3 separate regions of the Homo sapiens genome follow, and regions 1 and 3 are each reported to be linked to region 2. The links are microRNA targets in miRTarBase. Many come from high-throughput screens and were not tested one by one. Region 2 holds a microRNA gene; each other region holds the end of a gene's coding sequence. Distances are from middle to middle.

Evidence for each region. The annotated mature microRNA hsa-miR-23c reads AUCACAUUGCCAGUGAUUACCC and lies in region 2 at 1,504-1,525, shown strand. An mRNA with a match to its seed (bases 2 to 7 or 8) in the 3' UTR can be bound and repressed. Matches are read on the target gene's strand: a 7mer-m8 pairs with bases 2 to 8, a 7mer-A1 pairs with bases 2 to 7 and ends in A, and an 8mer does both.
Region 1: miRTarBase lists KIAA1210 as a target of hsa-miR-23c. Seed matches in the 3' UTR shown: 7mer-m8 at 2,250-2,256.
Region 3: miRTarBase lists BTLA as a target of hsa-miR-23c. Seed matches in the 3' UTR shown: 7mer-m8 at 3,531-3,537, 7mer-m8 at 3,002-3,008 and 7mer-A1 at 2,845-2,851.

Annotation. Positions count from the first base shown.
Region 1 is chrX:119,076,899-119,081,965 of GRCh38, forward strand. It overlaps KIAA1210, which reads right to left. Exons shown (of 12, transcript NM_001394962.1): 12 at 1,737-4,606. The coding sequence ends at 4,431. Among named protein-coding and RNA genes, the nearest start is that of CT47C1, 6.4 kb to the left of the region's middle.
Region 2 is chrX:20,013,552-20,018,625 of GRCh38, reverse strand. It overlaps MIR23C (microRNA 23c), which reads left to right and starts at 1,439; the gene lies at 1,439-1,538. MAP7D2 (MAP7 domain containing 2) reads left to right here. Exons shown (of 17, transcript NM_001168465.2): 11 at 2,301-2,532; 12 at 3,299-3,403; 13 at 5,001-5,057.
Region 3 is chr3:112,461,829-112,466,895 of GRCh38, forward strand. BTLA (B and T lymphocyte associated) reads right to left here. Exons shown (of 5, transcript NM_181780.4): 5 at 2,138-4,555. The coding sequence ends at 4,280. Among named protein-coding and RNA genes, the nearest start is that of BTLA, 35 kb to the right of the region's middle. RefSeq lists enhancers at 1,687-1,826, 4,264-4,779.

The DNA of each region.
Region 1 (5,067 bases), 99 Mb from region 2:
CAGGTTGCCTGGAAGCCACATGGTATTGCTGAGCTTGGGCCCAGACTTTGATTTGGAGCAGTGGTTCTCAAAGTTTGGTCCCCAAACAGCATCATCAGCATTACCTGGGAATTCTCAGACTCCACCCAAGACCTACGGAATCCGAAAATCTGGGGTGGGGTCAGCAATCTGTGTTTTAACAGGCCCCCCAGGGGCTTCTGATGAACACTAAGGTTTGAGAACCAGTGGTTTCAAGCAACAGAGGAAGAAGCCGAGCACCTCCTGTCGAGCCAGGGTTAATTCACTGGCTCGGGGCTGTTTCAGGTAAACTGAAAGGGACAGCAAGGGATGGGCTGGGGAGGAGACTAGAATTCACAGGGGCTGAGGCCTAGAGAGGAAAAATGCATAAAGGAAAAAGTCGGGTCCAAAAGGATACAAACATGATACCATGCATATGACTTCTAAGAAAACATACAAATGATCACCATAAATTGATTATGGGTACATATAGAGAGACTAAAAGATGTGCTTGTAAGAGATGCATACAAGTGTAGCATACAGAAAGGTGTGCATTCGAAAGAAGCACATTTGAGATGGTGGTTACCTCTCAGGGAAAGAAAGGGAGGGGCATTCTAGCAGAGAAGGCTCCACAGCAGGCATCAACTATATTTGTAATGTTACATTTCTTAAGCTGAATAGTAGATATATTGATGTTTATAGTAACATTTTCTACAATTTTGTGTAGGTCTGAAATATTTCTAAAGCAGGAGGAGGAAGGGGAGCAGTTCTTCCCACACCACTGGGGCAGGACTTACAGGAGTCTGAGAATTCTAGAACCCAACCTGGCCTTTGAGGTCATTATGAAGGTACATTTGTCATGGAAGGAGATAAACCATTAAATAAAACATGCTGTATTCGTTTATTTAAACATTTCAAATATTTAGACATATGGTATGTGGATCCCAAGTTGAACTCTTGTTCTAAACCCTGAAAATGTTACAGGTGAGCCAGGCTCATTATCTGGCCTATAACCCCTTTCCCTTCCTCCCTCCATGCCACTTTGTTACCTGAGCACAGTAGGGCCCCTTGCTTCTGAAAAGCGCTTGTTGCAGTAGCCCATCTTGCTATCGGACTTGGACTTTGTCCCTGACCCAGGCTACAGTGCAACCACCAATCACCTTGTCTCTTCTGCTCGTCCCCCAACCACACCCCCTCTTTATTCTCCAGGTGTCCAAACGTAAAACCTCTTCAGTGGCCCTTCTCCCCCATACCAAATATCAATGCTCACCTGAAAGCCATCAGCTTGGTCAGGCACACCTGCGTGGACGCCCCTTATTCTCAGCACCACCTTTTAAGAACATTTTACTTTGGCCGGGCGCAGTGGCTCACGCCTGTAATCCCAGCACTTTGGGAGGCCGTTAGACGAGCAGATCACAAGGTCAGGAGATTGAGACCATCCTGGCTAACACGGTGAAACCCCATCTCTACTAAAACTACAAAAAAAATTAACCGGGCTTGGTGGCGGGCGCCTGTAGTCCCAGCTACTCGGGAGGCTGAGGCAGGAGAAAGGCGTGAACCTGCGAGTTGGAGCTTGCAGTAAGCCGAGATCGCGCCACTGCACTCCAGCCTGGGCGACAGAGTGAGACTCCGTCTCAAAAAAAAAGAACGTTTTACTTCTCTGACAACCTTCAGCTCTGAGTTGTCAATATCCTATTTGATTTCCCGCCCCATGTCACAGACAGAGATGGACTACAGAATAGGCTTTATTGAATTTATTTGCTTTGCATATATCTTAAATCAAAAAAGTTAAAGAAGTAGAAAAGTTGTCAGAATATGCCTTTAGGCATTTAAAAAGAACTTAATCTCTTCATTTAAAAACAGAACTTTGTTGTTAACTGTGGAAAAGAAATTGTTATTGGAGAGTTCTCAGAGTGAGAATAGCTGAATACAGGTTCACTGTGAAAAAAAGGAAGGGAGGTGTAACAGCTGTGTTGTTAACTGTGGAAAAGAAATTGTTATTGGAGAGTTCTCAGAGTGACAATAACTGAATACAGGTTCACTGTAAAAAAGGGAAGGGAGGTGTAACAGCTAATCTACCAGGAGTACCCAGATAAAGGGCATCTACCTTAATATATTGTTCACTATGGGAATACAAAGGAAATAAAATTCACTCAATCAAAATAGCATTATCAAAATGGCAAAGGCACAGTATCAGGAAAAATAGATGTTATATAGAGAAAATGCAAAATTTAGCATGTAATTGTACTGTGTCACATTATACCAGCATCAACAAAACCCAGCACCAAGTGTTTAGCTCTGACACCTCACTACCTCTCTGGATTTTTTTGCATGGGGCAGCACCCCACTCAGAATATAAAGGCACAGTCAGATGTCCAGGCCTGCATTTCTGTTTAAGCAAAGCAGCACAGTGTAACAGAGGCAGACACAGTGATAACTACTCAGAAGTCACTTCTGGGTCTCCTAGAAAAATGAGCTAGGTTTACTGCCCAGACATCCAAAGGGAGCTCTCCCTTAGTGTTTGGTGGGTTTGGGGGATGGAATGAAGAGAAAGACAGAGAAAGGAAGATTTAACTAACTTCTAGTGAACCTAGATGAGATTCTAGGGTGGTCTGCATCTCAGAAAGCCAGCCAATTAAGGAACTGGCTCTGGGGGTAAAGGTGCCTACATCTTCATCCTCAGCCGAGGAGTTATTAATGGAGGCTGTGCTACAAAAGAAAAAGACCGTGTGGCAAGATGGGAAGGGAGGCATCAACATTTGCTGGGCCACTTGCCCCCTCCCCTCACAGCTGACCATCCCTCTCATCCTCTTTCTCACTCTCCCTTTTTGGTCTTCCCTCTTCTCCGTGGCTGGGGGATGAGTGGGTCACTGGAAGGTAGGGTCTCTCCAGCCTAGTAACTTTTGAGGTGTGTGCCTCTAGGAATGAGAGGGGAAAAGCTGATTTACTCACTTAAAGCTTCCAGGTAGCGGAAAGTTCATTTCTCTGTGGCTTTGGGATTGCACTCTTGCTTTGGGCTAAAACCTTGTGAAGCAAAGACAGCTGAGGGGAAAGGACAAGAAGCTACATGGAGTTCTCCACCTTAATGCTGGAACCAGAGAGGAAGGAGCTCCAGTGGCTCCAGATGTGCATCAAGGCAGTAAGCTTGCCATCTGCCTGATGGAAAGTACAGCTTTTGGCATCTGTAGAACTCTAATTTCAATAGGGTCTTCAGTGCTTAACAGGATATATGTGATAGGCAGTGATTTCTGTGCGATCAGAGAGGGTCACAGTAGTATTGGGACAAGAAGCAAAACATTGATGGACTAACCCTCCAGAGGAGTAAGATAATTCCCAAGAAGCATTCTGCGTCATAGGGAGGTGCTCGCTACAGCCAGGCCTGTGACAGGTCGACGTGGGGTATGTCCAAAGAGGGAGCTTTGTGTAAGTGCTCTGCATGTTACTATCACCCAAGGAGAAAGCATCAGGGGCCCCCAGGGACACAGGGAAGATGTTTCAAGGGGTGATAGGCTGATTGGAGAACTGGCTGTGCAGAAATTTTCTTGGAGACCCAGAATTTTCACTTCCACCGCCTCTTTTAGGATCCCTTGCAAAGCTTAGAGCAACAACCAAATAATTGCGGCATCTATCTAGGCTCATAAAACCTAAAGGCCAATCTTTAGGTCAAATCATCTGAATGTTTCCATTAGAATTACTTTATTTGGTTGAGGGAAATGACAATTTTCTAGTTGCTCCAACAAAATGTTTTTGCTTTCTCCCTTCTAAAGCACATTGTCCAAAGTTAAAGATTTTGCAATTTTACAGCAGTGCAAATGTTTTCGATAGTTTTAATAGAGGAAATGCTGGGTTTCTGGGTGCTGGCAGTGACTACGTGGAAGGTTAAGCATTCATGGCATTTATTTCATTCAAATAATTATGTTTTAATTTGCATTTCTAAGGCTATTTTGCTTAATAAATTCTTATTTTGCTTAATAAATTCTTAGTTTGCTTAATACTTATTTTGCTTAATACAAGTGGTCACAGTAAAAAGATCACTACATAGAATTAATACAGCTATTAGCAATTATCATTTAAAACGCTGATGCTTGGCCGGGCGCGGTGGCTCACGCCTGTAATCCCAGCTTTTGGGAGGCTGAGGCGGGCGGATCACGAGGTCAGGAGATCAAGACCATCCTGGCCAACATGGTGAAACCCCGTCTCTACTAAAAATACGAAAACAAAATTAGCCGGGCGTGATGGCGGGCGCCTGTAGTCCCAGCTAGTCGGGAGACTGAGGCGGGAGAGTGGCGTGAACCCGGGAGGCGGAGCTTGCAGTGAGCGGAGATCGCGCCACTGCACTCCAATCTGGGTAACAGAGCGAGACTCTGTCTCAAAAAAAAAAAAAAAAAAAAAAACTAAATAAAATAAATGCTGATGCTCCACACAAGAGCTCTTTATTGCGTGATTTCTGCCATGTGGCTCCATGCTTTGGCTTTCTTCCTGGCCAGTGAGAACCAGACAGGCTCAATTGGCTCAACTGGGTTCTGGAACTTGGCTGGGAGAGTTGAAGATCGTTTGGTTTCTTTTTCCATGGCAGGAACTTGCAGTATCTTCTGAGCTTCAAATCCAACTGGAACCACAGCAAATAACACACAAGCAATAAGGAACCCCAGCGATATTGGGGTATGTTGTTTATGGAATGCCATATAATGTTTCCTCCTTTCAGGTTTCCTCTGATCCCCCTGCTCTAGTGCTTTCTAAACTCTTCTCCCTTTGGTGCCAGACTTCTAAAAGTTAGGACCTGTGTGATGCCATGGGTAGTATGTCAAAGGGGTAAAATCAACTTGGCTATGGCCACAGGGCCCTGGGCATGGGAAGGCCTGGGAGGTAATACCTATGGCTGTAACTGCCAATCTTCAGGTGGTTATTACTGGATTGTCTTACATCTTTGAACTGAGACCAGAGGGAAACATATTGTATCTACTTAGTTTCTAAAATTTCAGATAAGGTAATGTTATTTGTGTTTGCCAATCCACGATTTCATGTGAAATGAATTGATTGATGACTTAATAGATGCACCCAGTAAAAGTT
Region 2 (5,074 bases):
ACTAAAACTACAAAAATTAGCTGGGCATAGCGGCGCATGCCTGTAGTCCCGGCTACTTGGGAGGCTGAGGCACAAGAATCACTTGAACCCAGGAGGCAGAGGTTGTAGTGAGCCAAGATCACACCACTGTACTCCAGCCTGGGCAACAGAGTGAGACTCCATCTCAAAAAAAAAAAAAAAAAAAAGGACAAGATTTCCCTGGAGGTGCTATGGAAAGGACAAGCGGGGTCTCATGGGCTTGTGGGGATTTATATTTTGGGTGATAATGAGGATTATGGAGGTTCAGGGGCCATAAGGATGTTCTTACATGTGTGCATCTGGGCACTTCTGAAGTCCTGATGGTAAAAAACAAGAAACAGAGGCCAAGTGCAGCGGCTCATGCCTATAATCCTAGCACTTTGGGAGGCCGAGGCAGGCAGATCACCTGAGGTCAGGAGTTTGAGACCAGCCTGACCAACATGGTGAAACCCCGTCTCTACTAAAAATACAAAATTAGCCAGACATGGTGGCGCATACCTGTAATCCCAGCTAGTTGGGAGGCTGAGGCAGGAGAATCACTTGCACCTGGGAGGCAGAGGTTGTGGTGAGCCAAGGTTGCACCATTGCACTCCAACCTGGGCAACAACAGTGAAACGCCATCAAAAAAAAAAAAAAAAAAAAGAGAATGGATTTTCAGGTCCTGGAGATGAAGACGGCAGGTCCTTTATGAAGTAGCTTATACATTAATTAATACACAATGTATCCTTTGTGTGTTAACTTCTCTGGGACAATCATAATTGGCTCGTTAATAAAGGGTAAGAAATGAAATGGTACTTCAGTTAACCTTTAGATACATCTTGTTATTAACACATCCATTTTGGATAATCCTGTGTTGGACATAGTATTTCATTGAGGAATCTAAGAAAATGGGAGCTTCTTTCTGATAGGTTCTATAATGCTCCTCTCCAGAATATCTGTTAATAATTTGAGTTGTTTCACAATGGTTTATAGGCATTGTGACCTAATTTAGTGTTATCACGTATTGTTACAGTCTCAGGCTAATATATTTAAGTATTTGTTTATCTTTCTTTTAAAATATTTCTTTGAATGAATAAACAAAATATTTCCTTTGGTCATACATAGGCTGTTAGCCTGCACAAGTTCTGAAGCTGACCATTAGGATGGATGGATGCTCTTTTTAAGTCTTGACCTTTTTATAACAACAGCATCCCAGTAAGTCATTGGCACATGCTTCCAAATGAAGGTAATTTCTAAAGGACATACAGATTTATAGGTGCACTTTAAAGGACATTGGGGCTTGGAGAGAGGATTCATTTTAAATTGTAAAACAAACTAACGTTTGAGAACCTTCTAGGGCCAGGCATTTTCATTCTCACAGTAAAGCCATAGAACAATAGTATAGCTTTTCCCATTTTTTAAATGGGCATCAAGAACATTGAGTGACTTTCCAGGTGTCACACAGTGAGTGGCATAATCAGAGTACAATTTGAGTCATGCCCATACATCACATTGCCAGTGATTACCCAAGGAAAGTGACGTACATGTGAGGAGGAGGAACATTAGAAAGGTTAAAACAAGCTCTTGGACTTTACAGGATTTTCCCTTACTGCTTCGAGCTCTTTACCATTACACCATGAACCATTCATCTGACTGTGGATGAAAATGTCTAAATGCCACTTAATTTTCATATAGCAAAGAAAGCTAAAATAGATTTCTAAAGATTGCCAAAATAAATGGAAATAGAGGTTTTAATTTATTAAATGTCAAGTTTCTGTTGAGCATTTTCTTCCATTTGCTGCTTCATAAGTCACATACCAATTAGAACCAAATTGGTATGACTTTTTGAGTTCGTAGTCACTGCTCTTAAATTGCTGACTGGCACATTTGTGGCCATTGAGACACTTCCCATTTTTCCTAGCTTTCATTGGTTTTAAATATTCTGCTTAGGTTTTAAAAGAATTGTCATTCAATAAGAATGATGGCTTGGCTTTCTGTCACCGTGGTCATTTGTTCATTGACTGAGGAGCATCTGTTTTCAATACAGTATGCGTTACACATCAACACATCATTCATTGCTGTATTACAGAATTTAAAGTCAAGCCTGGTTAATACTTTTTGGTAAATATATGGACCAGAGTGGATTTCCAGGAAGGATGAATCATGTTATTAAATGAATGCTCGTTGAAAGGTATGTGTGTGTGTTACCATGTGGAGCATTATTCTCGGCTGTCAGCACACAGTTCTCTGGCAGTTTGCTTTTCGAGCATGTCATCTTCTAACAACAGTTGTATTCTCAAAAGGCTGGAGAGAGAGGAATTGAAAAGAAAGGCAGAGGAGGAAAGGCTTCGCCTAGAAGAGGAAGCCCGAAAGCAGGAAGAAGAAAGGAAGCGGCAGGAAGAGGAAAAGAAAAAACAGGAAGGGGAAGAGAAAAGAAAGGCAGGCGAGGAGGCCAAGCGGAAGGCTGAGGAGGAGCTGTTGTTGAAAGAAAAGCAAGAACAAGAAAAACAAGAGAAAGCCATGATTGAAAAGCAGGTACTGTATGAGTCCTCAGATGGACTTTACTTGTTTTTTAAGGACCTTGATAGTAGGTACAATTAGTTAAATTTCAATGACTCATAATGTTTACTTGAAGTTTCTTCTTAAACTGTCTGGGCTGGTTATTAAATATAAGTTGGGGCAGTTGCAGTGAAGTTGGTAATGTTTGCCATCTGTGAGTTAGGGTTTCCCCAAAGGCAAACCCTGGGCTAAGAATTTGAGTGCCAGCAGTTTTTTTTGCAAGCGAATCCCAGGAAGCTGGTAGAGGAATAGGAGAAAAGCCAATGTAAGTGCATTGATGCATGTGTTACTGTGGGTGACTGGAACACAGTCCCATTGGGAACCTCTGACAGACTGTGGATCATGCTTTAGAATTGTCCAGCTGAGGGATGAGGAAACTGAACTACTTATCTACCACATCCTGCCCTTCACGGTAGTAGAAGGTCACTCCCTGGGGAATTAACTCTCTGATCTGGCCACATGCACACTTCATGGCCCAAGCCTGCCCACAGACACAGAAAAGCCTTGGCCATGTGTGAGAACTGTCTGCAGGTGATTTGCATGGTGAGCCAGGGGTATATGAATGAGGTCCAACCATGTTTGCTGTGTCATGCAGTGGTTTGTATAAATCCACATTGAATATTGGAGCAGCATCCACTTTAGGGCAGATGATGAGATGAAGGAACATGTGCAAAGCCAGGGAATTACCACACTGTTTTCTTAGCTTATTAAAGCTTTGCCTTGATTTACCTGTTTCTGTTAGAAAGAAGCAGCAGAAACAAAGGCCCGGGAGGTAGCTGAACAGATGCGTCTCGAGAGAGAACAGATTATGCTGCAGATTGAGCAGGAGAGACTGGAGAGAAAGAAGGTAAGGGCTGAGGGTCAGGAAGACCTAGGGTAAGTGAACAGGAAGTAAATCCAGTTCTCTTCTGCAGTGATTGGATAGAATGATCCTAGGATTGTCAGTTAGGTCAAGTTCATTGATACCACTGTTCAAATCTTTTATGTCTTTATTAGTTTTTTGCCATCTCGTTCCATCAGTGATTGAGAAAGATTGTTAAAAACTCCATCTGTAGCGAGGCATGGTGGCTCACACCTGTAATCCCAGCATTTAGGGAGGCAGAGGCGGGAGGATCACTTGAGCCCAGAAGTTCCAGACCAGCTTGAGTAATACAGTGAAACCCTGTCTCTACTAAAAATACAAAAAATAGCTGGGTGTGATGGCATGTGTCTGTAGTCCCAGCTACGTAGGAGGTTGAGGTGGGAAGATGACCTGAACTCGGGAAGTTAAGCCTGCAGTGAGCCGAGATCATGCCACTGCAGTCCAGCCTGGGGAACAGGAGTGAGACCCTGTCCCAAATAATAGAAAAAAGAATAACTCCATCTGTGATTATGGATTTGTCCATTTTTCCTTTCAGTTCTGTCAGGTTTTGTTTTATATATATTTATCGTGATATGCCTTTGTCTCTAGTGATATTTCTTGTCTTAAAGTCTACTTTGACAGCCCCCTGCCTTTTATTTTTTTGAGACAGTCTCACTCTATTGCCCATGCTGGAGTGCAGTGGTGTGATCTCGGCTCACCACAACCTCCACCTCCCAGGTTCAAGCGATTCTCCTGCCTCAGCCTCCCAACTAGCTGGGATTACAGGCGCACACCACCACACCTGGCTAATTTTTGTATTTTTAGTAGAGATGGGATTTCACCATGTTGGCCAGGCTGGTCTCGAACTCCTGGACTCAAGGGATCCTCCTGCCTCGGCCTTCCAAAGTGCTGGGATTATAGACGTGAGCCACTGTGCTTGGCCTGACAGCCCTTTTATGATTAGTGTCTGTATGTCAAATCTTTTTCACCCTTCTACTTAAAACTTCTTCTGTGTGTTTTTATAAGTAAAGAGCATATAGCCAGGAATTGTTATTTTAATTCTGTTTGACAGTCTTTGTCTTTTAATTGGAGTGTTTAGTCCATTTACACTAACTATACTTATGGGTAAAATTGGGTTTAAGCAGACTGATTATAAAGGAGTATTCTCATGGTGTCCTAGGCCCAACCTGGGCTTTGTATTGCTGTAGGCCTGGGATCCAGGAGACCAGCCTGTGGCCTTCTCTCCTGAGATGCACCTCAGCCTCAGCCTCACTTTCTGTAGGGTGGTGCTCTTTAATGGCAGGTGGTAATTTGTTGATTTATACAGAGCCTAAGGAGAAGAAGGAGAAATATGGGATATAAATCGAATATTGATTCTAGATACGTACTAGTTAACTTCTCAAGCATTTGACCTTGTCCATGGGGCCGGAGGTGTACATCTCCAAAACTAGTGGAAAACCTTTCTATACTTGTTATCCTCTTCTGACTTTTGCCTTTTACAAGTTTTCTGAGAAATGTGACATTGCATGTAAACCAAGCTACTTTTATGTTTTTGGTCTTATTGTCCTCTTACTTGATTTTGTTTTTTGTTTTTTGTTTTTAGAGAATAGATGAAATCATGAAGAGAACAAGGAAAAGTGATGTGTCTCCACAAGTGAAGGTAGGAATTCAAATGAC
Region 3 (5,067 bases), not on the chromosome of region 2:
AATGGTACAGTTACTTTGGAAGATATTTTGACAATTTCTTACAAAACTCAACATACTCTTACCATACAATCCAGCCATCATCCTCCTTGGTATTTACCCAAAGGAGTTGAAAATTGAAATGTGAGTCATAACCATAACAATGCTGTCTCACACCTGTCAGAATGGCTACTATTAAAAAGTCAAAAAATAAGACACTGGTGAGGTTGCGAAGAAAAGGGAACACTTATACACTGTTGGTGAGAGTGTAAATTAGTTTAACCATTGTGGAAAGCAGTGTGGCAATTCCTCAAAGAGCTGAAAACAGAACTACCATTTGACCCAGCAATCCCATTACTGGGTATATATCCAAAGGAATATAAATTGTTCTGTTTTAAAGACAAATACATGCTTATGTTCACTGTAGCACTACTCACAATAGCAAAGCATGGAATCAACCAAATGTCCATTAATGGAAGACTGGATAAAGAAAATGTGGTACATATACACCATGAAACACTATGCAGCCATGAAAAAGAATGAGATCATGTCCTTTTCAGGAACATCGATGGAACTAGAAGCCATTACCCTTAGCAAACTAAAGACTATTGCATGTTCTCACTTATAAGTGGGAGCTAAATGGCCGGGCGCAGTGGCTCAAGCCTGTAATCCCAGCACTTTGGGAGGCCAAGGTGGGCGGATCACAAGGTCAGGAGATCGAGACCATCCTGGCTAACAGGGTGAAACCCCGTCTCTACTAAAAAATACAAAAAAAAATTAGAAAATTAGCCAAGCGTGGTGGCGGGTGCCTGTAGTCCCAGCTACTCGGGAGGCTGAGGCAGGAGAATGGCGTGAACCCGGGAGGCAGAGCTTGCAGTGAGCCGAGATCACGCCACTGCACTCCAGCCTGGGGGACAGAGCGAGACTCCGTCTCAAAAAAAAAAATAAAAAATTAAAAAAAAAATAAGTGGGAGCTAAATGATGAGAACACATGGAAATATAGAGGGGAACAACAGACATTAAGGCCCACTAGAGGGTGGAGAGTGGGAGGAGGGAGAAGATCAGATAAAATAACTAATGGGTACTAATAGGCTTAATACTTGGGTGATAAAATAATCTATACAACAAACTTTCCATGACACTGGTTTACCTGTATAACAAATCTGCCCATGTACCCCTGAATTTCAAATTGAAGTTTTTCTAAAACCCTGCACACAAATGTTTAGAGCAGTTTTATTCATAATTGTCAAAACTTGGAAGCAACAAAAATGTCCTTCAGTAGATGAACAGATAAACTGTGGTACATTCTGACAGTGGAATATTATTCACCATTAAAAAGAAATGAACTATCAAGCCATGATAAGACATGGGGGAAACTTAAATGCATATTACTAAGTGAAAGAAGCAAATCTGAAAAGGCTACATGGGGCATGATGCCAACTGTACGGCACTCTGGAAAAGGCAAAGCAATAGAGGCAGTGGTTGTCAGGGGCTTGGAGGGAGTGATAAATGAGTAGAGCACAGAGGATTTTTAGGACAGTGAAACTATTCTGTAAATCACTATAATGGTGGATACAAGTCATTATACATGTCAAAACCCAAAGAACTGCAAGTGTGAACCCTCATGTAACCCATGAACTTTGGTTGATAATGACATGTCAATTCTAGTTACTGATTGTAACAAAGGCACCACTGAAGTACAGGATGTTGATGATGGGAGAAACTGTGCATGTGTGGGGGAAGACGGTATAGAAACTCTCAATGCTCACCGCTTAGCTTTGCTGAACCTAAAAGTGCTCTGAAAAAAGTTTATATATTTAGCAAAATAGATATGATCGCGCCAGAGAATTCATTCTGGGGACTAGATAGTTTTGGTTGGTGCACAAAACTGATCAAATAAACCACATATACCAAACCTAGCCTCTACTAGTTTTCTCAAATTGTGGACACTGGGAAACATATTAAAATTGGTTGGCATGTCTTTTAAAGATGATGATTAAAGAGCCATTTTCTAGACCTCCTGAATCAGAATTTCTTAGTGCTGCAAGTTAATAGTCTGCAGTTTAGCAAGTTATTCGGGTCGCTTTTATGTGTCAGGGGGTTTAAGAATCAGTATTCTATTCATGTCCACACATTTTGGGGTACAAAATCAGATGCCAAATTGATTTCAAATAAGTTTTAATAACTTTACCTTCTCATTGAGCACAATCACAAGCTTAAAATTTGTGAAAAACCATTAAATTATCTACATATTCTTTTTCTCAAACCCTCTATAAACTAATGAAATAAGCCATGTAAATAATAGTGAAGTAGAGTCATTTGGGAAAATGCATGTATGTCTCTGACACCATTTTGAAAAGGAATAAAAACATAAATGATTTGTGATTTTGGCAAACAGTACAAATATATTAATACATCTTAGAGATGAAATCATTATCAGCATTATCTTTACTATAAGACATACTAAGGATATTTTAAATAAGACAGAAATATTTTGCTTTTAAGTTTGAGAGAATCATGAAGGAACTGTTCAATTTCGTGTGTTCATCTGATAAGAGGACAGCTAAATGTATCCTCCCCATATTTCCTGTTTCTATTTTTAAGAATACCACAAGCAGCTATTCTAACATGTCTTTCTTACATAAGTTGTCCACAAATGCAGCCTGGCTAAAACAGCCTATCTCGAATTGGTTGCTTGAAATTCTAGGTGTAATTGGCAAAATAACAGTGACTCAAAAGAATATTTGCACCCCCAAATCTAAGGAGCTAAAACTTAATGCCAGTGTTACTTAAGAAAATCTCTCCACCACAAAACCTCAGTTTTGTCTTTTTGTATATATACCCCACTTGTATTCTAAACTCCATAATTTCACATATTATTTTCTTTAATGACCCATTTACTCTAGTATTTTGAGCTTCATAAGCAAACTGAAAATATAATGTCAATTTGATCAGTTTCTCGTGCACCATTTCTGTTGTCACCCACCCCACCTAACACACACACACACACACACACACACACACATCACATTCCTTTGTGCAGCAGCTCAGCTCACATATTTGTTGAAATGGATTTTAACCTTTGCTATCCACTTTGTATGAAGACTATTACATTATTCAGTAGCAGCACCTGAGAATTCGAATAGCCTCAAACTGTTGAATAAAATTATAGGCTATTTTTGAAATAGTTTAACTCAAGTACTTTGGAAAGTCCAAAAATCTGAATCCATCTTTTGCTATACTCTTAAGTGGCTGCAACCTCAGTATTTTAAAATAAATGATTAGCAAACTAAAATATGTCACTACAGATGATTTGCCCTGATTCCTTAGTAAGAAGAACAGCAAGATGCAGATGTGGTGAATGAAAGCAAATTGACCCCTACAGACCAATTAAATATTCTGGGTTTTCCTCCATTCCATTAATTGCACTTTAACTTGCTATCAAGTCAAGCATGAAGCAGTTTAAGCTATCTTCACTTGCCCAGTGATACCTATTCTGACTAACTTTTAAACTATTCAGATGCCCATAAGTATATTAATTCAGCAGCATTATGTCACATTCCTATCCATTAGTCTATGTGACCCAGTGAGTCTCTACTTTCCTCATAAATGTGCTATACGTTGACTGCTCCATTAATACCTATATTTGCTTATCAATCTAACAGAGTAGATATAAGCATTTGTTTGCCAGGTATGTGGAACATCTACCCTATATCCAATTGGTATATTCTATATTTTTATTGCACCATTTATTATTTTCATTTTCTTACATCAAGCCTAAAATGATTTCTCCTTTGCATTTAAGAAACACCATTCTTAGACTGACACAGCAAAAATTTCTTATTTTGGAAGACTGACTTGAAATATACAATCATTACTGTATTTATGGTTGGTTAGTCAAATTGGGACATTTTGTTTTCAAGAGTGTGTAGTGAACTGATGCAGGTAACACAAACCTCTTTTCCCTACAAGTCTTTCCAATAGCTTCAAAGGCAAGATCGAGTTTGTATATTGGGTAAAATGTAGCTAAGTTTAAACGTTCTACTATTCTGCTACTCATGATGTCAACCAGTTTTGGAGAGATTTTGTTATTCAAGGCTATAATATAAAAAGCTCCCAAATAAGTTTCTGAGAGAAATTTTAATCATTTATCCTATGGACCCTTAAGACCCAAGCACTAACATGAACATTTCTAAAGTAAAAATTCTCAAATTGAGAAATATTATTTGACATCCTGTTGAGCCCAGACAATGATGTCAACATGCTGATCATTCAATGGTCCCTGTTGGAGTCAGAAACAGACTTAACTCCTCACACATATGGATGCATATTCTGTTGGTGCTTCTTTTACATTTCTTGCCAGTCTTGAGTTCGGTCCAATGACAGAATGGTTCAGGGAAGCATAAACAATGCCTGGTTTGTTTTCTTCCAGGCATGGATTAGAATAAACTTCAGACCCTTCCTGCATCCTGAAACAAAGGTCAGGGTCATTATCATAAATTCCAGTTTCTGATAGCAGTACTTGGGAATTTTGCCTGGTGCTTGCTTCTGTTTGCTCACTCTTAAGGTGAGCATCAACCTACAATAGAAAAAAAGATGGTTTTAAGTGACACTTACGGCCATGGTAGTGCATATTCATTAGCAAACTATGAATGAAAAGCTTAAATGGAGTCATGTCCATTGTGAGAAATAATCTACTGTTCCTCACATACTCTGCTGACATCTACACTTTCAGCTAAATTTCAATTATTAAAGGATGAAAGGCTTGAGAATCACTATGTCACCCCTAAATAGTTATTTTGTGCTTTATTACTGGTCACTTTTGAGGTCACAGAACATTTTTTAATCCCCCTTCAAGATAAAAAGCATAGCCCAAATTGATGGAAAAAGCAAAAAATATCCTATGAAAACTTCAGGCAGTTTATAACATGATGAATAGTATTTAATGCAGTTTAGAATAAAAAGATTAAGGATAAAGCAGAACAAATACCCCCTAAGAGGGCAGAAACAATAAATATTATGAGTTAGCCAAGATATATTATTATAATTTGAGACCTTAAATTAAAAAATTGATGTCAGTTTTGGAAAGAT